Linked DNA regions of Homo sapiens. The protein of the gene in region 7 interacts with the protein of the main gene of each other region in a biochemical or structural test. Each region holds a gene or a part of one and is shown on either strand. Other genes may lie near its edges.

Region 1 (3,500 bases), on a different chromosome or scaffold from region 7:
TGATTTGGTTCAACCCTCAGTTGGCTCCCTGTTTCCTACTGCATCAAATTCAGATGTTTCATTCTGATCACCTGTTATCTCACTAACCTTAGCTGCCACAGCTCTTTGTCATGGAGCCTTTGGTTAGATTCTCATCTGTGAAGTATGTTTTTTGCTTTTTTTTTTTTGCTTTGTGGCACAGGACTGGCAGGTGGATCGAGTGTGGGGGAGTATATAAAAATATTTTGTACACTTCAGAGACCTACCCCATGAGAGGTACACTGTGTTATTACTACCCCCTCAAAAGCACATCTGCCCTTCATTCTCATCTCCATTTCTATCTTTGTCCAAATCCTCTCCTTCAAGCCCGAGTTCAGGACATTCATTCATTCATTGATTAATTGATTTTTTATTTGTTTACCGGCATGTTGAAAAGGGACATCTTGTATATCTGGCATAGACATTGTGACAAATATAAAGTTAAGTATGGCCAGGTATGGTGGCTCTAGTCTGTAATCCCAGCACTTTGGGAGGCCGAGGTGGGTAGATCACCTGAGGTTAGGAGTTCAAGACCAGCCTGGCCAACATGATGAAACCCTGTTTCTACAAAAACACAAAAAAATTAGCTAGGGATGATGGCAGGTGCCTGTAATCTCAGCTACTCGGGAGACTGGGCTGGGAGAATCGCTTGAGCCTGGGAAGCGGAGGTTGCAGTGAGCCAAGATCACGCCATTCATTGCACTCCAGCCTGGGCGACAGAGCGAGACTCTGTCTCAAAAAATAAATAAATAAAATAAATAAAGATAAGTATAAATATTTTCTACCTGCAAGAGAGGAAACAACGACACTAATGAAAACTGAGACTAAAGTAAAATCATTGCTCTGTGGTTGGTACAAAGAAAATAGTTTATAAGAGCAAAAGAGGGGCGTTCTTCTCTTTTTTTTTTTTTTTTGGGATGGAGTCTCACTCTGTCACCCAGGCTGAAGTGCAGTGGTGCTATCTCAGCTCACTGCAACCTCTGCCTCCTGGGTTTAAGCAAGTCTCCTGCCTCAGCCTCCCGAGTAGCTGGGATTATAGGCGTATGCCACCACACCCGGCTAATTTTTGTATTTTTAGTGGAGATGGGGTTTCACCATGTTGGCCAGGCTGATGTCAAACTCCAGACCTCAAGTGATTTCCCCACCTCAGCCTCCCAAAGTGCTGGGATTACAGGCGTGAGCCACCACGCCCGGCCAAGAGGCATTATTTTCATTTGGGTCAAACAGGCTTCACAAATAAGTTGGTTATTTGGTCTGGACCAAACACACTGGGTTGAGATAGAGGAGAAGCCCATTCTATCCTGAGCAGAGATAGGGCAGTGTGAGTCATGCTTAGGAACATGGAGGAGACCACACTGCTGGTGTCAGCTACCCAGAGTGTGGTGAGGGAGGATGAAGTGCTTGGGAAGCCCCTTGGGGCTATGCTGGGGAGCCATCAGCCATGGATGTTATCAGATTGGGGTGTTTAAAAGATCAACCTGGTGGCAAATGGAAGGTAGAGCTGATGGGAGGGTGCTAGTTCAGTGCCTAGTCCAGGAAAGAGGGGGCATTTTTCCAGTTTGTCTTTGGTATATATTATTTATTTTACATGAGTGAAACAGCAGCTTTGTTAATCTGTTGCAGATCTGAACATAAAGTCTGGTCTCCTCTGGTGACGGAGGAAGGGAAGCGTCATCCATACAAGATGAATTTAGCCTCTGAACCCCAGGTAAGTTCTTGCTCATCGTTGCCGCTGCTCTCACCACCCAGCACTTTGCCGTTTCTGACACTGCTCAGCACATTCCTGTTTTTCCTGCCCTGGAGGCCTGGGGATAAGACCCTTCACTGTCTCTGCTGGTATCTGGCTCTTGTTCAGTTCTTCCCGTAAGGGAACTGCAGGAGGATAGGGCTGGAAAACCCCAGGGCAGTGACGCTGTGTCCTGGGCTGGAAGCAGGGGGTCGGAAGGCGATAAGGGAAGCCGGTGGAAGCCTTCCTGCGTGGGAAGGGTTGGCAGGATCACAGTGAAGTCAAGGAGCTATTCAGCTCGTTATGGATTTCAGCAACAAATGAATCATGACAGGGATGAAAATAAGTTTAGGTCTGGAGGCCTAGAGCCTAGAAGAAATCGGGGAATATGTAATAGGAAGCCCTGCTTCTCCCCACTGTATGCCCCTGTCTGGTTTCCATGAGCCATGGAGTGGAAATCTCTATTTTTGTTACAGTGAAACTTCTAGTGAGACTTTAAAATTACTAAAATAAAGCAGCAATTAATATAAAAAAAAGCAGTACATAGTGTACAATTTGTCACCCAGATAGAATTTCTCAGGACAGTAGACTGCCCTAAGATCCCATATTTGTGAATAAATCTCTCAGTAGTTGGATTATTGGATTGTAGGTGATTTTATTTCTTTCTGCCTTATGTGCCTCTTCTAAATAATCTACAAGGCATGGGTATTGTTTTTGAAATAAGGGACAAACTTAGAGATGTTTAGAACATCTTTTGTAAAATTCCTCACACCCAACATGCTACTTGTCTCAAAGTATGTGTCTGTTGGATACATTAATGAATTAGTAATGATAAACTAGGTATGTTGATAATGCCTTTTGAAAATTTTACACTGGTTTGTGATGGTTATGCATTTGACCCAAGTTGAAGATTTGAAATTTAACTTATTTTTCTAAATTTGGGATACTATTTAGTTTTTATGGTGAATTAAGATGTAATTAAAATACAATATATAGCTAGCTATCTTTTATACATAAAACAGAAACTTGTATGAAGTTGAACTCACTTGGTATATTAGTGTGTGTTAATTGGGTGGTTGGATATAAGTCATATTTTCTCAAATAGAATCCATTAAAATTTCAAAAACGAAGTCACATAAAATTTTTGCCATTAAGATAGTAAAAATAATTATTAAAAATCCCAAGAGTCATTTTAAGGATCATTTTGCATCATTTCAAAACTGATGTGAACATATTCTTCTATACAACTCCTCTCAGGAAAGTTCGTAAAATGGCACTTGGTCTATACACTGGCAGTTGTGCAAACTAATTTAAAACATGCCACAGTTAGTTTCAGTTTCCTTGGGAGTTCTCAGCTACTTCATTAAATTTACCATAAATGTTAAATTTTAATTGTTAAATTTTAATTTTTACATATTTTATAACACACAAGGAATGATTTCGTTTTAACTTGGTCTATCTGAAATCCTCATTTTCATGTAAATAAGGTAATTATGTAAATTTCAGTTATAGTTTTCATTTGTAGTATATTTGAATTTTCATTTTAAATCTGTAGTTACCTGTATTAATCTTTTGAAGGTAGTTCTCTTCAGATTACAAAAATTCTCAAATACTTTAAACCCTTGTATTTTTCTTGTGATTCTAGTAATGCTTTATTACTGTAAGAAAAACTTCTCACCCATCATTTTTCCAGTCTTTTACTTCCAGCCATTCTAAAGTAGAGGATAAATGAGTAAGAGCAGAGTTCATCTATAAT
Region 2 (3,500 bases), on a different chromosome or scaffold from region 7:
AGAAGGGGAAGGGAATTGGGGAGGAAAAAAAATCAGAAGGAAGACGAAAGATGGGGCTATAAAAACAAAACTACCTGATAGTTGAAACGCTTTCAGAGTTGTTCAAATCAGTGAGAGTGGCAACGGAACACACAAACAACTAATTATGGAACTCTACTCTGGGGATCCTCTCTGGCTAGATAACCTGTGCTGATGTGCAGACACGTGGACATCCCCCTCTGAGACTGGCGGTCCAGAGGCAGTCTCTGCCAGGCAGCATTACCCGCTCCGAGGTGGAGCCTCAGCCCCCTTCTTAGAGCTGTTAAGTCTAAGGTGTGGCAGAGCAGACAGAGATAGAGGCATCTGAAGTGAGTATAGGTTTTTTGACTAAGAAAAAAAACAACAGCAAACATGACTAGTGATCTTGAAATATTTTGTACCGAGAGAAAGACTGCATTTATTTGTAGAATTTATCAGGTTTCTGATACCACTCATTGGATGTAAACATTTCATGTTTCCTCACTTTTGATATGAAAGTCGGTAAAATGCAGTATTAGTCCCGGGAGGATGTGCACAGCTGGTCAGAGCTTCCAGAAGGAATATCTTCCGAGGACTAAGGTGATCAGGTTAAGAGGGTTCAACATCCCACGGCCCTCACCTTCCTCCCTCCCACATTCCAGGCATGGAGATATCTGGTTTCAGAGTCAGCCCCAAATCTCCTGCCTATAATTACTTTAACTGGGGTCTCTAAGGTTCCCACTTGAGGGCTAAAATGTAGTTGGGAAAGAGGGCCTACTGGGGAGGTCTCACAGGAGGCAGTGCCCTGGGAAATGCCAAGTCCAGACTCAGTGCCAAGCAGTAACCATCTGCACTCGGGGACAGCGAGGAGCTGACCATGGCCTCTGATGACCAGCAGGTATTAGATGGAAGTGAATGAGAGAGAGAGAGAGAGAGAGTATGTGTGTGTGTGTGTATGTGTGTGTTCGAACACATATGATTGCCAGTATGGAGAATGAAAGATTAATAATGCTTTCTGGAGAGTTTGATGCAAAAGTGGGGGAAACGGAGAAAAGGCGCTAAGGCTAAATCCATCTGCATTTGCTATATTTCATTAGCTAAAGTCAGGTCAGGGCAGGGCCAAGGCCTCCAATTGGCAAAGGACAGTGTTATGGCTTTAAAAAGCTGAAACCCCAACCTCTAAGTAGATCACAATGTTTTCTGAGCTTTGCAGTAATTTTCTATGGAAACTAAAACCTCTAAAACATACAAGCTGGCCCAAATGAGAACACAAGCAAAAGATGTGGAAGACAGCAAAACCTGAGCACTGGTTTGAACCAGGCACTGACATTTGAAATGCTTTAAGCCTTTTCACATTCCTTCTTTATTCCCTCCAAAAAAAAAAGTCTTGAGTTTAATTTAGGTCTATTTTGGCTGAGATTAGCATACCTCTGACTCACAGGATTTAATAAATTATAGTATTATTGAATACATAGGACATCCCTCTACCCCAGCTTACTCTTATCTTTTTAATTTAAAATAGTATTCTGCTACCAAGAAGGATGCAACTGCTAGTTTTAGATGTAAATAGTGTTATTTACTGGACTTTGTGATATTATTTTCTTAACTACACTTTACTATGGCCCTGTTGAAAACAGACTATCAAGTTTTTTGTCTCTGTTCTGTCATCTCTCTTAAGCCAGGCACCTTTAGAGTGTTTGCAATTTGTTCGAAGTGGTTGAGGATCTCAGGCCCTGCTCACGTGAGGTGGAGTGCAGGGGAGCTACCGGTTTCCCTGCTGACCTGCTGAATGCTACCTTCCCCTCGAGTTGAATACACCTTAAGGAAAATGATAACACGAGGGACGTGTAACTTGTTTTGAAGCATTAAAAACCAGCAGCTCTTCACTATGTTCCATATTTTAACCAAACTACTGTAGACTACTAAACATAGCCAAGCCAGAACATTCCTTCTGGATTAAGCCTAGGCCACTTGAGGGGCAGCCAGGGGTGATGGTGTCAGGTGAGAATCCTGTGTCTTGAAGGAGTGGCCTTTACAGGAAGAGTGCCCATGTTTTCACCTGCAGCGTTGCCACCAGAGTGTGCAATACCTCCTGCACACAGGCTCAGGGTAAACTGCTCCAAAGCTGGGTTTTGTGTTGCATACAAAGTCAATAAAATAGTTGCTAATCCTGAATGGCAGCCAGTGATGTGAAGGTACTATTAAAGTGAACAAAAACTAGATTGCAACAGTTTTCTTTCCTTGCTTGAAGTATAACACACGCTCCATTTGATCCTGCCTGAAAGAAGCTAACATTATATTTGTGACAGACAGAGGCTCCATCAAGCCAAGCAACAATTAACAGCTCAAGTGTAAGATTTATAAATGCCCGTGTACTCACCCTTCAATTGTTACCACCCAGAGGTTACAGGACTCTTTCCCAGCATTTAGGGGAACAGGCTTTTAGAGTATTTAGAAGACCAGGCTATAATCAGTAATGTGCCTGGGAGCAGGAAATAGCTCCCAATTTATTTATGGCCTTGGGAAAACTCAATCCGGTGTCTCCTTGTAGCTCAGAACACTAATAGCCCCCCTGGAAGAGAGTGGCACATTGAGCTCCAAACCCAATCAACATACATCCACTTGGCTGCAGATCTGACTGCTGGGTCATGAAGGCCGTGAAATGATGTTTGCCCTCAAGTCACTAGATATTTTAAGAAGCCCTATTTTTCTCCCTTTTTGCAGGAGTAGAGAGATGAAAGAGGACAGACCATTGAAAACTTTTAGATGCAGGAGAATTGAGACTTCCACAAGGGAGAGAAACACAGCCTCCCCAGAATCCATTATGCCATCGGGTTGTGGCACTCTCACCCTTGCCATAATACCGTTTCCTAACAATATCAAATCAGTGGATGAAATACAAGCTCAGAAACAGGAACATTTTCCTAAATCATAACCTAATAGCAAACAAAAATTGAAAAAACAATTATTCTGAAGCTCATTATTCTTAGATCTGTAGATATATATGTGTTGACTCCCACAGGATGGCACCAAGTAAAGATCTTAAGAGCATAGTAGGGGTTCTGAGACCGACTGTCACCCGTGGATCCTGATGGGGAAGAACAGAGGCTTCACTGTAGCTATAGTTTTCCACCAAGTCAATCAAATTAAAACATGACTCATTGTCCCCTCCAAAGATTCATAAAATTCTTGAGCTAAAGTGATCTTCTGAAGAAAAGCCACCTAACAATGTTAGGAGGCTCATAAAGCTCATTTCTCTTTTCCCTGGTATGCACAAATATCAAGCCTATAAAAAAGTAATTATTTCCCCAAACCTGTAACCACTGCATTCGTTTTCTTTGGAGGAACATTGTAGCATTTCAGGAGGGTCGAGAGATCTAAAGAGTTTGGTCTGAATGTGTGTCTGTACAATTCCCTTTGGCATTAAACTCTGAAACCTACAATCAATGGCCTTCAAATTGGTGTTAAATTGGGAGAACACCCTACTGCTTTCTGAGTCTACG
Region 3 (3,500 bases), on a different chromosome or scaffold from region 7:
TCCTATACAAAATTTCTATATTTTGTATAGGTATAGCAATCAGCTGGGGAGGAGACAAGCACTGTTCTTTGTTAATCTTTTGTTTTGGGTTTAGGGCTACATGTGTAGGTTTGTTATTACAGGCAAACTCGTGTCACAGGGGTTGCTATACAGACCATTTCATCACCTAGGTGCTCAGCATAGTGCCCAATAGTTATTTTTCCTGATCCTCTCTCTCCTCCCATCCTCCTCCCTCAAGTAGGCTCTGGTGTGTGTTGTTCCCCTCTTTGTGATCATGGGTTCTCATTATTTAGCTCCCACTTGTAAATGAGAACATGCGGTATTTGATTTTCCTTTTTTTTTTTTGAGATGGAGTCTCACTCTTTCACCCAGGATGGAGTGCAATGGCACGATCTTGGCTTTCTGCAGGCTCCACCTCCTGGGTTCAAGCAATTCTCCTGCCTCAGCCTCCTGAGTAGCTGGGATTACAGGCACGCGCTGCCACACCCGGCTAATTTTTGTATTTTTTAGTAGAGACGGGGTTTCAATATGTTGGCCAGGCTGGTCTGGAACTCCTGAACTCAAGTGATCTGCCCGCCTCAGCCTCCCAAAGTGCTGGGATTACAGGCATGAGCCACTGCACCTGGCCTTTTCTTAAAGCTGAATTTTCGTGGCAAGCTCGCTCTTCTTACTTGATGTGCATGTTCCTGATCAACCTAAAGAGTAAAGTACTTTTTGATGATGCTTTTCTTCATCCTTTAGATAAGAATGAGAGAGCAACAACTGCCTATATTAAAGGAAAATACTATTGTTTTTATCGGGACCAAGCTTGAGGAGCCTGGAGGAAGTAATGGGAGTAGGCTAACATCCCTTCTCCCTAGTTTCCTGAGACCAATGCTGCTTTTTGGTTGGGTGATCCTGTAAACTAACAGCAGACCGCCTGCAAATTCAGGCTCATGATTGCTTCTTCACACTTGAGGGGTGTTGTACAGTTTTCCCTTGTATACAGGAGAACTTCCTGTCACACCAGCCAGCATTTTCTAGGTACTAAATGCAGGCACTGCATTTGCCTTGCCTTCTGAACACTTCTGCATGCATGCTCTCTCACTCTTGTACCTGTACACAGTGCCATGCAGCTCCCCTGTCCAGAAGCTATGGGTGGTGGAAGGTGGCCATGCTGGGGTCTCAGCCCCACACCCTTCATCCTGGGGTTGAAGCCTTCTCAGGGACTGGCCTCAGTACATCTCCAATGCCAGTCTCTGGCTTGCTGTCTGTTGGATTTCCCAGCACCACTGCTCTCCTTTCTGCAGTGGTTCAGCAATCCCTGTGTTTTCTTCCACATCCTCCACTGACAGGAGCAGTCAAACCATCCCATGTGTTGTCAGGAAACACAATGCAGGTGACCAAATCACAATTCAGCATAGTCCAAGGATGGCCTGCTGTGATGGAGGTTGTCAAAAAGCAGTACTCGAGGTCTGCTATTCTCAAACCACAACCTCACATTAGAATTCCAGACAATGAGTTTCCCACAATGGCTGGGAATAAAATGTCCTTTCACTGTGGCACCCCAGCCACCTTTTGGCAATGCTGCCTTCATCATGGTGGGGTTTCCTCATAGCTGGGCCACTGCCAGAGGAAGATGTTTCCTTGGTGATGCTGGCTGGGTCTCCGTGGCAGAGACTTGACTACCATGACTTTCTTCTATCTCTTTAGGCTGCTGTTAAGGCAGCTGGGCTAGATTGGAGATCAGGATCAGACAGATAAAATGTCCATCATGAGCATCTGTCATGGTCTACAATAAATTGAGTTTCCTTTACCAAAAAAGGTCTCCCAGCTCATATGTCTACTAGGCAGGACACCAGTTGCAGCATGGTTTGACTTTTCATTTCAATCGTAAGTCCCATCCTCACCTCTCATGGAGGATGTGGAAGAGAATGAGCCGATGCTTATGACACTGCCAGAAGGACAATGATGACAGAATCTGTGAATGAAAGGGCCAGAAATACAGCATTATGAAACAGTGGCCCTGCCACTCCCTGCTGGATACCTTTAGATTTGAATAACTTCAAATCAAATTCATTAAATCAGATTTATTTAAATTGAATTCATTCAGCATGTGAGTTTGGGCACTTCCCTGAGTGTTAATGAGTCTGTATCAAAAGTAGTAAATCTACTTGTATCCAGGTCTAAAGAAAATCTAACTGTTATTCATTCCTCCCACATATATTTGTGGAGCAGCTAATAATAACATGTTAACAGTAGATACATTTATTGAGGCTCTACCATGTACTAAGCTGTGCGTGTCTGTGTGTGTGTGTGTGTGTGTGTGTATGAGAGCCATATATATATATATATATATGAGGGAATATATATTCTTTCATATATACATATATATTTTTATCTTTCTTAACATATGTAAAATCTTTTCTGTACGTATAATCTCTAAGCCTCACCAACTCTACAATATTATTGATATTGATATTATCTCTACTTTAGATACAGGAAAATTTAGGTTCAGTTATGTTAAGCACCTTGCCCAAGGTTTTTCTACTGATTCACAACCTCACGTTCTTTTCTTTGTTCTATGCCAGGTCACGAGTCAGACACAGGGTGAGCAGGAATCAGTGGCCTAGCTTTCACTCACAGGGGCCTGCAGTTTGGTTATTACCAAGCCTCCCAAAAGGACCTGATACGTTGGTTTTTGGATCACATGGTGGCTGCAGATGTGCTCAGTGGGGTGTCCAGGAGAGGCTGGGTTTAAGACAGTTCCCACATGCTGGCTGTAGCATTTGGGGCAGGACACTTAATAGCTTTGACTCTGTTTTCTCATGTTTGAACTGGGATTACACCTTCCTGGTGGGTTTGCTGAGAAGATGGGAAGATGTCCATATCTTCCTATATGTATATCTAAGGTGCCCATCACATGGCTAGAGCTTAATAAGGGATAGCTGGCCTTATGAACTTCTTTTGAGCCTACGCATTCATAGTTGGGTCACGTAAGCTCTATCTAGGTTTCTAAATCCCATGTAGAATCTTCCCTTTCTCTAATCTAAATGTAACATCTTTCAGGAGGAGCTAAATTCATATTGTACCCGAGCAGCTATAAACGATCACTCTGTCACTGGAGGAAAACGCTGTGCCCACATAGAGATGCCACCAAGAAACCGGCCTTTTTAAGCTGTTGACTTTTTCTTGGCTTGTTTTTATAGGTGTTGGTGGAAATAACCCAGATGAAGAAAAGAATAGCACAGCCAATTCTGGGGTCTCCTCTACAGACATCCTGAGCTTCGGGTACCAGGGAAGTTTGTTGTCACACACACAAGACCAGGACAGAAATACTGAAGAACTAGACATGGCTGGGGTGCAGAGCTTAGTGCCCAGGCTGAGACATCAGCTTTCCTTTCTGCCGTTAAAGGTAATCATCCCTTGGTTTACTTTCTAGATCTGGATGAAAGAGAACAGACTGTGAAGCCCAACAGCCTGGCCCCTAGGCCCTTCCTGTTCTCTGTTTTCCATGTCAG
Region 4 (3,500 bases), on a different chromosome or scaffold from region 7:
CAGGGTGCGTGTGTAAGTTCCAACAGGCGGATGGGGAAGGCCTCCCTGAGGAGGTGACATTTCTACAAGTTCCCGAAGGAGCTGAGACGGGAGTTTTGATGATGTCTGGGGAAGAGTTTTGTGGGCAGAGGGAACAGCCGATGCAAAGGCCCTAGGGGGATGTGAGTCTGGTGGGCCTTGGGTCGAAAGGACAGATGTGTCCAGGAAGGCTTCACCTCCCTTTAGAGTGCAGTTGCCAAGGTGGGGTGGGCCCATAGGGTCAAATCTCCGCTTTGTCACTTCTGGCTGTGTAACCAGGAACAAGTCACTTAGCATCTCCATGCCTCAGTTTTCCCAGCTGTAAAATGGGGAGAATAACAGTGCCCAAGTGGCAGTGTGGTTATGAGGATTAAGTGAGAAAATGCAGTGTGCTGGAGTGGAGCTGGCCAGGGCGAGCATCAGGAGGTGAAGTCAGGGGACCGGGGACTGACAGTTGTGGTGAGGACTTCTGCTTCTACTCTCCCTGAGCTAGACACAGTCTTCTTGTGACTGCAGGCAGCCGCCATTGGGAAACTGAATGGTTCTGTGGGTGACCCTGATTTTGAGGTCACGTTCCTTGACATTGCTGGTTTTAGAGTAGGGCAGGAGAGCAGGACCCAGAACGCAGAAGGCCAACCCCCAACTTGAGACTGCGCCCCCGCTCTCCCATGGTGGGATGTTGGCCTGCGTGTGGCTCAGGCCTGCTGGACAGGAGCCCCTCTCCCTGTGTGGAGGAGGATTGTGGGGGTGGCGGCCTCTCCAGGTGATGCCATGGGTCCTGCTAGCCCTGATGCACCCAGCCTGTGAGTGCCTGAGCCCTAACTTAGGTATTCTTGGGATACTGGAGCTGTCACCTTCCCAGTGCCCTGATGCTTCTCATTTGGGGTCTGTTGCCCTCCTGTTTGGAGGGAAAGAGCAGAGCCAAGGGTTCAGGGCATGGTCTGTTGTGAGGTCAGGGAGCCCTGGGTTCCAGGTGCCTCTGCAGCTCACCAGCTCAGTGGCTTCTCTGGGCCTCAGGCTCCCTATCTGTAAACTGGGGACAATCGGTGAGCCTCCCTCCATGGTTCTTAGGACAATTAACTGACTTAGCATTCATAAAGTGCTTAGAGCAGGCCTGGCCCAGGGAAGGGCCCAACACTGGGTGCTACTTATTAAGGTTCTTTATTTTTTTCTTTGCAATCCTTGGCAACAAATGAATGAGGCTTCAAATTTTTAAATGTATTGATGCATTTCTTTTTGTCTCCCTGAAAAACGTGCTTCTGCCGAGCTTATCTGATCTTTCTATGCTGCTCTCCCCATGGAAGCTGGGCTTCCTGGGAGGCTTGTCGCCCGTGGGGATTGGAACTGTCATTCAGAGGTCAGCCTGTAACTGGCTTTGAGGCATCTCCATCGAGCCCTTGGCCTGTTCCAGCCCTCAGTGGCCAGGGAGGAACGCCCAAAGGAGCTGGGGCTCTGCCTGGAGCCGAACAGCCCCGGGGCTGCAGGCATTACAGCAACTTCCAGGCTTGCATGGATGGGGGAGTAGGCAGGAAGGTACCCAGAGGGTAGGGCCAGACCCCTTAGGGAGCCAGAAGGCCTGGGCTTCAATCCTGGCTCTGCCACTTAGAAGCTCTGTGCCCCTGGGCAGTTCCCTTGACCTCTCTGTGCCTCATTAGGCCTGGGTTCAAACCCTGGCCCTGCCCTTTATCATGGGATATCACTTAACCTCTCTGTGCCTCAGTTTCCTCATCTGTAAAATGAGAATCATGATTATACCGCCTCAAAAGTGGTGAGGATTAAATGAGATCGTGCTTAGGAAGCACAGAAACCAGCACTTAATCACTAGGAGCCATCATCATGATTGATCTAGGAAAACCTTTCAACAAGGTGAGGGAAGCAGGCAGGGAGGGAACTGCCATGTTTTATGGTTTCTGTGCACACTTCCCCACAGTTCCTCCCAGCAACCCATGAGGTGGGCACCAGTACCCCCATTTTGCAGAGGAGAAGTCTGAGGCTCAGAGAGAAGTGACTTGTCCCAGATCCCTTAGCCAGTTGGCAGCCGATTTAGAATCAAAGTCCCAAGTTGGACTGACTCCAAAGCCTATCCCTCCCTTCCCACCATATCAACAATCCCTTCCATGGTGGGGCGAAGCTGGCTGGGGCTGGACCGTCACTTGGTGGAGTACTTAGCGCCCATGTCCTCTTCAGCACCCAGGGTCCCGGTGAGCTGGCATGGTCCTGGCCGACAGCTCACCGTCCCTGCAAATCATGTCCTGTTCGCCCCAAGTGGAGCCTCTGGGCATTTGTTTTCTCAGTGGTCCCTTTTGAGATGCTGAGTCCTCCCTCCAGGAGGCTCACAGAACAGGGCAGCAGTCAAAGCCGGCTGACTTTATAGTCCCACCCACTCCCCCACGCTTCTTTCCAGCCACCCGCTTAGGCAGGACCCTGGCGAAGGCAGCCTGGCAAGGAGTTGACTTCCTTTTCCCTTTGTCAAAGCTCAATAGCCCCCTGAGGCCCCAGAGAGCGGGAGATAATGAAGGCAAATTAGCCATGATTTCAAGAGAAATAAAATAAAAAAGAAGGCCACCCACCCCGGCTGCAGCGTGGGCCTGAGTACCAGGTGCACAGGTCTGAGCTCCAAGCACGTTTCTCCCTCTGTCCCTCCTCCCCTGACTTGCACACCCCACATTCGCCGGGACTGGCTGGCACCACTGCGGAAATGAATTTTCCTCTGAAGCGAGTTCCTACAGGACGATTGACTGAAGGCAAAAGCTCATAATTGCCCGTTGCTGGAAGGAGGAGACAGGGAAAAAAAAAAACATGGATAAAAATATCTCTGTTTTTTATGCACGTTTCCAGCTGAAAATTGGTGGGAAAGATGTTTTTGAAAAGCCTTCATCTCTAAGCATATAATTACCAGGTCCTGGAACAAAAAAGAGAGAGTGGGAGAGAGCAAGCATGTTCTCTGAGGAGGGGGCCTAGGGTCTGACCCCCCCAAGGGGTTTTCTATAAATAAAGTAATCCCCTCAACTTCTCAAGCTCTGGCCAGCTGGAGTCAGCCATGGGAGAGACACCCCCATTTTACAGAGGGGAAAATGGAGGCTCGAGTCACACAGCCAATTGTAATTCTAACCCTATTTTGATTCTTGGTTTGGATGCTGCCTCAGTTCCCCCCCATCTGAGGATGTTCGTGAAAGAGAGGCCCTATGTCCCCTCTGAATAGGCATCAGCAAACACTGCAGCATTCCTTCCGGGCACCTTTCTGACTATGCCAGGGGGTCTTGGGTGCTCAGAAGCCTCTCATCTGGCAACTCGCCTATCAAGAATGGCTTCTTGACTTCCACAAGAGGCCACCAAGGGCACACCCTGAGATGCCTAGGGAAGTCTCTCGAGGCCTCGCCTGCTGCCCACTGACTCTTTGCGCACAGTAGTATGACTTGTTTTGCAGCACGCAGTCAAGTCTCTGACAGCTGGGAAAAGAGATGGCTCACAGGCTGAACCCC
Region 5 (3,500 bases), about 41 Mb from region 7:
CAAATTTCACAAAGTCTGATTACTCAGTGTTCTATGAAAGTATATAGGAATACAGAACTCAGAACTCAGGCTCTCCAGAAGAAAACCTCTATTCCCCTTCATGTTTCCAAGGAAACATTTAAAAAGAAAAAAAAAGCAGTTTTGGTTGAGACTTGACACAGTGAACTGAAACATGAGGAAGTTTTAAGCATCTTGTTCAGGTGCTGCTGATAGGGACACTGATGAAAGCTCATGGAGCTGGGGACGGACGCCTCCAAGCTTCTTCTCAAGAGTAACTGCTTTGGACACTGACCATTTTGAGCCCTAAAATTTTGTTTTTCAAGTTTTCTGATGATATCAGGGAGATAGTTTAATGAGGTAGCAATGCCTCAAATCCTTTTCATGGTAGGAGATAGCTCAGGGGTATCTCCTGCCCATGGTTTTGGGTAGGGCTGGTGGGAACCTGGGAGCTGGCTGCAGCTGAACTCTCAGGAGAACCCAGGGTTTTACATCAAAATGGGTGAAGCAGAGGGATACTCCTTGTATATGAAACAGATATTAGGGATTCTCAACAGGAAGGTTTTAGGGCACAAGTACACCAGGCCCAGAACCCTCTCTGTGCCAAATGTCAGACAATTTATCCCCTTTCTCACACTACCAGGGTAAAAGTGAACTTACCTGTAAAATATTCTCCAAATTCTTGTTCTAGCTTAATTGCTCGATCATAGGTTTTCTTGGCTTGTTCCTCTGTTAGACGCTTATTCATCTCCCTGGGAAAATGAGGGTTTGTATTAGAACATAAAGGGAATATTCCAAATCCTAAAAAATTAAAATGTATGGCAAAAATAAATCCTACAGAAAACATAGTGTAATCTTAGCAACAGGTTTTTAGTCTTCATTCAGGACTCCTCTGTGCTGGAATAATTTCAGCAACAAGGACTCACGGCCAGAAAGCTCATTCTCTCAAAGGGCAGTCTCTTGGTCCCACATTGGATTGAAGCCAAATATGTCTCCTTATGATTTGTAGTCACTGGTCCCTGTTCTGCAGGGACCTAATATCCTCCATGGTAGGCCCTAGGATATTTAAGTAAAGTGCTTAAGTGTGTCTTGAGGCTTCTACTTCTTCAGAATAAACTGTCCTATTGCTTCATCTATCCCCTCATTGGATGTGATTTCTAAATCTGAACTTTCCTGACCACCCTTTCTTGGAGTTTGTTCTAGTGTATCTCAGACTTTCTGAAATGTGAGAGTAGAATGGTAGTTATCAGAGACTGGGAAGGGAAGGCAGGAGGGGAGATGAAGAGAAGCTGGTTAAGGGGTATAAAATGCAGTTATAGGAATATTTCAAAATAGCTAGAAGAGAAGAACTGTAATGTTCCCAAAACATTTCTGGTGATGGATATTCCAGTTACCCTGATTTGATCATTACACATTGTATACAGGTATTAAAATATGACATATACTCCAAAAATTTGTACAACTATTATATATAAATTTTTTTTAAAAGGCTCAAGGATAAATCAAGGTGGGAGAGAAATGAAAAATTCTTGAATTCTCTCTAAAACCTAATCTATTGATTCTTAACTACTGGCAGCTTTATCTTTCCGGGTCTTCCAGGTGTTAAAAAAAAAATGTCCTGCCAAATGCAATTTGGTTGGCTGATCAGGATGCATCACAGGTGCATGTAGAATTTCTGAAATCATTACCGTCTTGCATGCTGCTTAGGAAGCCAGAGATTTGGGTCTGGAACATCTGGCCTTAGTCAATTCCTTTCGAGAGCAAGTAACAGAGGCAAGAAGGGATGTGCTTAAGGCTGTGTATTTAACGAAGAGTAATCTGGGGTAAGAACTCAAGGTTTTGGTTTTTTAAACCAATTTTCAGTTAGACTTCCTATTATACCAAGACTTGATATCTTTCAAAAGAGGCTATTTGGAAAAAAAAAAAACAATATATTGACATTAGACATTAATGGCTGAAATACAAAGTAGTGAGAATTTCCTGAACTCTTGTTGCTAAACTCATCTTGTCCTGAGGGGTGTTATGTATAATTTTTCTTCCAAACAGTCTCAGCTGTACATGCTGTGAATGGATGTTACTCGTGGGTGGAGAAGATGCTGGGCTAAACCAAGGGACACTCTTCAGAGAAAGATAAATATTTGCTCCAGATGTCAAGAAATCATGTGGGCCAGGCACAGTGGTTCACGTCTGTAATCCCAACACCTTGGGAGGCTGAGGCAGGTGGATCACTTGTGCTCAGGAGTTCAAGACCAGCCTGGGCAACAGGGTGAAACCCTGTCTCCACAAAAAAAATACAAACATTAGCTGGGTATGGTGGCACATACCTTTAGTCCCAGCTACTTGGGAGGCTGAGGTGGGAACATGGCTTGAGCCCACGAGGTCATGACTGCAGTGAGCCATGATGGCACCACTACACTCCAGCTTGGGCTGGACAGAGCAAGACCCTGTCTCAAAGAAAGAAATCACATAGTTCTGGATCATCTTCGACCTGCCTTCCAAGAATTCTGTCTTCTCTGAATTCCCTTTTTACTGATTACAGCAATGACTTAGTTTAGGTTTTTATTCTCTGACCTGTGAATTTATTTTGTCTCCTTGACTGATCAGTAATTCTTTGAGGGCGAAGACCATGGCTTGTTTGTCAGCATGTGGCATGGAGACTGATTCAACATTTATTTGTTGAATGAATAGATGAGTAAATGAATGAATGAATGAACAAATGGGGAGCTAGATAAACATAATTATAAGATAGTTGAAGACAGAAGTAAACACAGAGCATCATGGGAGCAGGAAGGTAAAAGCAGATTGGAAGTGGCAGGGTGAAGGGAGATTGCCACATGGAAAGGGAACAGAAGTCAGATGGTGGCACAATATAAAAAGAACATCCCTTTCATACACATCTTTGATTTTATGCTCCTCTGAAGAGTCAGCTATGTATGTGCTAATAAGCTCTGTGATTTGATGTGGATGATGCACTTGAGAAATAATGTGTGTGATGATGTATCAATGTGTAAATGTGACAGCTGTCATGCTTTTGTTCCGGCTGACCTAGCATTCACTACTCTCTGGGGAATGGGCAATTCATGGCAGCTTTGCTCCTGGAGTAAAAGCCTTGGAAAAGAGTGAACTGTAAAGTAAACATCCAACCTTTAGTAGGTAGATTGCATTGGTCTGAATGTCACCATCACTGCACTTGAGACCCATGAATATGGCTGCAGCAAATTATGTCAGATTCACTGTCCTTATTGTGAAGTCCAGCCTTTAGTACATTTAACTTTCCTTGGTGATAAGTGGCTGTGACAGTGCCCTAAGGCATAACTAAAATAAGTCATCTCATAGTTGTGGAAGGCAGTAGACCTTCTCCTATGGAATGCCAGATGGGACTGTCTCCTAATATTGCACCGGACCAAATGTGCCACTGCTGTCGTTCCCTCAGGCCTCATTCCCCTGGGAAGCCATTTATCCCACTGAGTGTTTACAATATGAAGATTTATTTTTCTATTTCT
Region 6 (2,465 bases), on a different chromosome or scaffold from region 7:
GTGGTGGCATCGCCGAGCGTGGGGGCATCCGCGTCGGCCACCGCATCATTGAGATCAATGGGCAGAGTGTGGTGGCCACGCCACACGCCCGCATCATCGAGCTGCTCACCGAGGCCTATGGCGAGGTGTGCGGGTGGTGGGTGGTGGCCAGGGGCGCCCCCACGTCCCCCACGAGCCCAGGCCTGCCCTGAGCCCCGTTCCGCCTCCACTCCCCAGGTGCATATCAAGACGATGCCAGCTGCCACATATCGCCTCCTTACAGGCCAGGAGCAGCCCGTGTACCTGTGACCACCTCATCCCTTGCCTGCCACTGTGCCTTCGCCTCCATGGCCCCGGAGCCCCATCCTGGGCCTGCCCTGGCTGGCCAGGACCCCAGCGGTTCTTGGTCCTGTATGATTTCCTAATATAAAAACAGTAAAAGCTTATGCATTTGGCAAAGTCTCGGATCAGGGTCTACGGGACCGAGGACCTTGTCCTTCCTGGAAGCCACTAGAAGCCGGTGCTGTGAAAATACTCTGTTTATTAAAGACCAGGCGGAGGGAGGTAAGGTTGTGGGTTCTGTATGGGAAACTGAGTCCCAGCCCCAGGGAGGGAGAAGGAGGACGGACCAGCTGGCAGCCTTCGAGAGGTCACAGGTCAGTGGCCGGACCCCAGTCATAGCCGTCTTCATCGGAGGACTCCGCATCATGTACTCGCATAAACTTTTTCTTCAGGGCTTCCCGTTCATAGGTTCTGGGGATCAGGAAATAGAATAGATGCTGTGGGTGGGAAGGGTGTGAGCTTTCTCACCATAAACTGAGGCTGGCTGTGCTAGGCACAGTGGGTGTGGGCAGAGATAAGCACATCTGGGCATTCATGGGTAGGGCCTTGTTAACAAACTCCTATGCATCCCTCAAAGCCCCAGCTGCAATATCCTGCCCTTCAAGAAGCCTTCCTAGGCCTCCCAGGAAGTGGATTCCTACTCCCTTGGCCCTGATTATATGGGGCTTAGAGAGGCTCTGGCAGGCTCTGTCTTCCCCACTAGGCTAGGGGCACCATGAAGGCATAGCTTGGATCTAGATCTGAGTCCGCAGAGTCTGAGTCCCAAGGGAAGGGTTGAGGGCCCCAATCTGGAATATGGGGTTCTTACCGCATGCTGTCCTGTCGCCACTGTCCCTGGGGGTGGCGGCTGTCCACCTTGGAGGAGAGGGAGAGAGGAGCTTCAAAACTCCCCCCAGAGCATGGTGAGTCGAGATCAATAACCACCTCCATCCCATCCCCCACCTTGGCCCGGGCCATGCTGCCCACTTGCTAACCCCGTGACAAGTCTGCAGGTCATCCCCAAATCTAAATGAGAAAACTGAGGCTGGGATAGGGGAAGGCCTTAGCTGAGACCTCCTAGCCTGTCAGCAAAAGGGGAATTGGGTTTCTCATCTGTGCAAGTCCTCACAGGGCCACAGCCATGAGTTCATGTACGTAAAGGACTTAGTACAGTGGCTGCTCCGTATGCAGCCTGCCATGGACAGTTGAGCAGGTTGGGTACTGCACAACCCCAGGAAAATCACTCTAATCAGAGATGTCATTGATTCATAGATTTTTACATTGACCTAGAGAGGGTGTGGAAGAAGATGCTGAGGCATATACACTAAGAGCTACATACACATTTGTTACTGTTAAACACCCAACTACAGCTGGGCGCTGTGGTTCACGCCTGTACTCCCAGCACTTTGAGATGCCAAGGCAGGAGGATCACTTGAGCCCAGGAGTTAGAGACCAGCCTGGGCAACATAGCAAGACCACATCTCTGCAAAAAATGAAAAAAAATTAGCTGGGTGTGGGTGGTGGTGCGCGCCTGTGGTCCCAGCTACTCCGGAGGCTGAGATGAGAGGCTCCCTTTAGCTCAGGAGTTGGAGGCCGCAACGAACTATGATTGTACTACTGCACTCCAGCCTGGGCAGCAGGGCAAGACCCTATCTCTAAAATTTAAAAAATAAAATATATAAATTAGATAGGTCAAGTTCAAAAAGACACGCAACTACTATGTGCCAAAACTTGGGCTGAGCACATTGAGTGCTCACCACCGCCCTGTGCCACCAAGTCTGATACCATCCACCCTGTGTCCTAGATGAGGAAACAGGTGCACAGAGAGGTTAAAATGTTGGCTGGAGGCCAGGTGCGGTGGCTCACGCCTCTAATCCCAACACTCTGAGAGGCCGACGTGGATCACCTGAGGTCAGGAATCGGAGACCAGCCTGGCCAGCGTGGTGAAACCCTGTCTCTACTAAGAATACCTTAAAAAAAAAAAAAAATTAGCTGGGCATGGTGGTGCTCACCTGTAATCCCAGCTACCTGGGAGTCTGAGGGAGGAGAAACGCTTGAACACAGGAGGCCGAGGTTGCAGTGAGCCCAGATCGTGCCACTGCACTCCAGCCTGGGTGACAGAGCGAGACTCTAACTCAAAAAAAAAAAAAAAAAAAAAAAAAAAA
Region 7 (4,092 bases):
GTCTCCAACCATAATGGAAATATCATCTTCCAACAGTGATACCAACCTCATTTATTCTTTCCATTCAAAAAATAACAGAAATCATGACAATGTGTTAGTTGTAATCTCTAGTTTTTGCACAATGTTAGCCTGCAGCAGTCTCTTTTCTGCCCGATTCAACTAACTAAACTTGTCTTCCTTATTTCTTCCATTATTTTTTTTTTTTACTTCAGAAACCTATTCAAAACTTTAGAGTCAAAGTTGCAGACCCACGTGTGTGTTGTGATTGTACACTCCAGTATGCCCACTGCTTTGCCTTTTACTATTCTAATTTGTGCTGCCTGCTTATTGTCCAATGTGCCATGGGCTGTAATCTAGGATGAGATTATGAAAAAAAACTCCTTGTTGATTTTAAATGTGCAGCCATAGTAAAATCACTGATCTAGACCTACTTCATTCTCTTTAAAGACAATCAAACCTAGTGTTTTGTACGATTTTTCAGAGCTTCTAATATGTAACTTCCCATATAGTCTTTTTCAATTCCTTCATTTATTTGATGCACATTCAATATAAAATTTCATCTAATTTTATTTTGAAGAAAGTGAAAAACCATAAAAAGTAAGAAGTGGGGCACTTATATGGACTTATATGGAAACTAACTTCTCCAAAACTTAAATACTTTCTTCAGTTATAAAAATTAGGAGGCAGAATTTAAATCAACAAAGAAACTCAAAAATTAAGTATTATATCAATCCCTAAATTATTACACCATGCTTCCTGAAATACAATTATAAACAGATTTGAATTTTCAGTCAACTATATAAATTACCTATTTACACACAAATTAAAACTAAATATGTCTATTTGCAAGGAAATAAAAAGTGTGTTATTTTAAAGTTTTTAACTTTATTATCAGTACAAGATAACTTGTCAGGATGTGCCTAGTCCTCTCAAGTATATTAATCACAGTGTGTGCTGTGAACTAAATTACATTAGAAGCATGTAAGAAATGCAGAATTTCAAGCTCCACTCAGACCTATTGCATTAGAATCTGCATTTTAGCAGAGATAATCCTTGTGCACAAATATTTACCACCAATTGACAATTTTAAAATTGACAGGGAATTCGTTTACAGGAAAATTAGACAACTGGGGAAATGTCAAGTGTAATTGCTGGTTTTTTCCAAGAATTTGGTCCCTGAGAAATGGAAATCCCGGGAGAGTATTTGTCTCCATGTTTTTTGGTACCTCGCATATCTTAACCCAGGGCAAGCCTTTATAGCACAGCAATCAGAGCTGCTCAGGTGAGGATGCTTGCCACCCTGAAGCTGGAGAAACAAAAACTGCAAAGTCATAATTAGAAATACTGACCTGTGATGCAGACCAGCTTCAAAGTGACTCTGAGACTGAGGGCTGGGCCCTGCCCTCTCAACACTAAAGATTCCAGAATGCTGGGTGTCTATGACTCTCAACACCAACATTAATGCCATGTCAGGAAGAGAACATTCCAAGCCAACATTCTCCATGTCAGGAAGAGGAAATTGCAAGTAAAATCAAGCATTGAAGTTTTTAGGCAGTGGAAAGGTGAGTGTTTTCATCCATCACTTGTGATTTGAGACTATTAGATCTGGAAATAATCTTTGCAAAAAATCAGGAAACTATTATTCCTCATTATCTTTACTTATTCAATTATTTATGAAATGCTCTTTTAAACCCTCTTCAGTGGGCCAGCCACTTTGCTAGTTACTAGAGATACAGAGGAGAATAGCTCGGGTCCATCACTGGGCTTATAGAATAACTCAGTCAAAGAAAATGTGCTGTCTGGAAATCAGAGTTTTTGGAGCTTACAGTAGGAAGATCAACTTAATTACAATAAACTGGACAATATTTACATGATGACTTCATTTTAAATGAGATTTGAAAAGTAAATATTTACCAGACATCAGAAAGACAGGTGTTGGTAAGACTATCTAATGTAAAAGAAATAGCTAATGAAAAGGCTCAGTGAATGTGACAGACTCTAGGAACTGAAAGAAGCGAAGTGTTCCTGTAGCCAAGGAGGAGGATCACAGGAACTAAAAGTGAAGAGGGACAAGAGATAGCATGAATCTGTGTACTTTATCCTAAGTGTAATTAAGGCAACCTGTTCATCAGTGTCCCTGAAAGTGAATCATCATCTGATTTCTGGTCCAGTGTATTTTATGACCAGGAATAAGTAGCTCATTCAACTTCTAAGAACTCAAATACTAGAATATTTTCCTTTACATTTATTTTTATTTTTTTTCAGTAGTAAATTATTTATATATTTTTATTATTATTATACTTTAAGTTTTAGGGTACATGTGCACACTGTGCAGGTTAGTTACATTTATTAAAAGATGTATTCATAAATCTTTCAAATGCCACACACAAAATTAAAGCTTATCCTTGCTCTTCTTAGGATACATGAAAATGCTCACTAATTATCTCATTGCCTGCAAATATTTCCCAAGCTCTTGACAGCTTTTGTGTGCCTTCCATCTTATCAATGTCTTTCTTTTAAAAATATATCCATTGGAAAACGATGGACTCCAGGTGTAATATGATAAGTGTGGAATGGTGCTTTCTAACCTCATGAGCACATAGAAGATGGTCATATTAATATGGCATAATGAAGTTACTGGATGAGAAAGCTTGTGGCTGATGGTGACCAGTGAACTGGCTCTGAATGCCACAGTCTTATCTGTGAGAACCCGAGGGCTACAGACCAATACCTCTGAACCATTATGAACCTTTCCCTACATTTCAGTTCCATGGCATATGAGTTGGAAGCTATGTTACAGATCTTACATGGATTGCTAGTCATCATAGTCTAGCCATTATTTTTTTTATAAATGAAATCTGAATCTCCCCTTGCTTTATCCATCATCCACTATTCTATGGACTTCATTTAGTTAATACAGAAGTACACTTTTATGTTTTCTTATGAATTGTATTCAAACCAGATATGTTGTACATAAAGAATTAATCATTTAAACTAAGACTGGAAGTTAAGTATTTTTCTCACTCAATTTTAGCTTGTTTTTTTTAGCTATTTTCAGTGTCTAGAACCAACCACATTTTGCTGGTTGTCATAATATTTTAGGACTGAAGTTACAGTAACTTGGGAATATTGTTAACCAAAGGGTGTGTGTAGACCATACCATGGGGAATTGTCAATTCCCAAATCCATGTATAACTCACAAAAAGAAAGTTTCACAGTTTAATTCCATAGAACTCTTCCCAGCTGTAATCCCTACTATGATGATTACAATTAAAGTAATCAAAAACGTAAATGACTAAAAAAGTAGAGAAAAATGCTTTTGATATTCATGATGTTCAGTGACCTTACCTTATTCTTTGATATTATATAATTTATAACCCTACTTAGCTGGCTTTGGTCAGACCTTTTATTGCTACTGTCATATATACCCAATTTTTAACACGCAGGAGTAAACATAATAGACCAGGAGCCCTATATTTTTTATTTGTTCTTGTATTAACAGAAGACTATATTTTGTGTACATGTAAAGTATTTTTCAGAGCCTCATATTGATCCTATAGTGATCACATGAGGACACATAAATAATAGAAAATACATTTTTAAATGTATATATAACAGAATAGCTCTGAATTCGTTCGGGAAACCATTCAAAAGTTGCATGCCTCTCTAACTTTACTTCAGTTATTGAAATAATTGACACATCATCCCTTATTATGGTGAATATTAGACTTAGTATCAAGTCTCTACAACAGTATTTCTCTTCTTCTTAACACAGTCCTGTTGGGTTGTATAAACAATCAATTCACGTATTCATTGTATTGGCTATTTCTTCCAGTTTTATTTTATCTGTACATTAAATGATCACTCATTTCCATTTTAATCTTAACTAAATTATTGAAAACATTGTTAACAGGATAGAATTAGATTGAGAGTTCTATTAAAGCAGGGAATGTGTCATTTTACTTTTCATGCATTTTGGCTTCGGGTCAGTATTCGACCCCTTGTCTCTCAGTAATGATGGCTGAATAAAAGAGCGAGCTAGAATAGGTGCAGCAAACCACCATGGCACATGTATATCTATGTAACAAACCT

Evidence for each region.
Region 1: the proteins of OR8G1 (region 7) and PDLIM1 interact in a test that uses a peptide from one of them, tested with the Homo sapiens proteins (one large-scale study listed by IntAct).
Region 2: the proteins of OR8G1 (region 7) and PARD3B interact in a test that uses a peptide from one of them, tested with the Homo sapiens proteins (one large-scale study listed by IntAct).
Region 3: the proteins of OR8G1 (region 7) and FRMPD2 interact in a test that uses a peptide from one of them, tested with the Homo sapiens proteins (one large-scale study listed by IntAct).
Region 4: the proteins of OR8G1 (region 7) and GRIP2 interact in a test that uses a peptide from one of them, tested with the Homo sapiens proteins (one large-scale study listed by IntAct).
Region 5: the proteins of OR8G1 (region 7) and DLG2 interact in a test that uses a peptide from one of them, tested with the Homo sapiens proteins (one large-scale study listed by IntAct).
Region 6: the proteins of OR8G1 (region 7) and TJP3 interact in a test that uses a peptide from one of them, tested with the Homo sapiens proteins (one large-scale study listed by IntAct).

What each region holds. Positions count from the first base shown.
Region 1 is NC_000010.11:95,267,004-95,270,503, reverse strand, and holds part of PDLIM1 (PDZ and LIM domain protein 1), read left to right. Parts: intron 1-1,641; coding exon 1,642-1,726; intron 1,727-3,500. UniProt on the Homo sapiens protein: Cytoskeletal protein that may act as an adapter that brings other proteins (like kinases) to the cytoskeleton. Involved in assembly, disassembly and directioning of stress fibers in fibroblasts.
Region 2 is NC_000002.12:205,615,975-205,619,474, forward strand, and holds part of PARD3B (partitioning defective 3 homolog B), read left to right. Parts: 3' UTR 1-3,500. UniProt on the Homo sapiens protein: Putative adapter protein involved in asymmetrical cell division and cell polarization processes. May play a role in the formation of epithelial tight junctions.
Region 3 is NC_000010.11:48,180,697-48,184,196, reverse strand, and holds part of FRMPD2 (FERM and PDZ domain-containing protein 2), read left to right. Parts: intron 1-3,188; coding exon 3,189-3,394; intron 3,395-3,500.
Region 4 is NC_000003.12:14,533,843-14,537,342, reverse strand, and holds part of GRIP2 (glutamate receptor-interacting protein 2), read left to right. Parts: intron 1-3,500.
Region 5 is NC_000011.10:83,461,345-83,464,844, forward strand, and holds part of DLG2 (disks large homolog 2), read right to left. Parts: intron 750-3,500; coding exon 658-749; intron 1-657. UniProt on the Homo sapiens protein: Required for perception of chronic pain through NMDA receptor signaling. Regulates surface expression of NMDA receptors in dorsal horn neurons of the spinal cord.
Region 6 is NC_000019.10:3,748,849-3,751,313, reverse strand, and holds the end of TJP3 (tight junction protein ZO-3), read right to left. Parts: intron 1,177-2,465; coding exon 1,130-1,176; intron 733-1,129; coding exon 630-732; 3' UTR 501-629; downstream 1-500. Other genes in the region: APBA3 (amyloid-beta A4 precursor protein-binding family A member 3), read left to right, coding at 1-125, 217-409. UniProt on the Homo sapiens protein: TJP1, TJP2, and TJP3 are closely related scaffolding proteins that link tight junction (TJ) transmembrane proteins such as claudins, junctional adhesion molecules, and occludin to the actin cytoskeleton.
Region 7 is NC_000011.10:124,239,803-124,243,894, forward strand, and holds the start of OR8G1 (olfactory receptor 8G1), read left to right. Parts: upstream 1-1,292; 5' UTR 1,293-1,562; intron 1,563-4,092. UniProt on the Homo sapiens protein: Odorant receptor.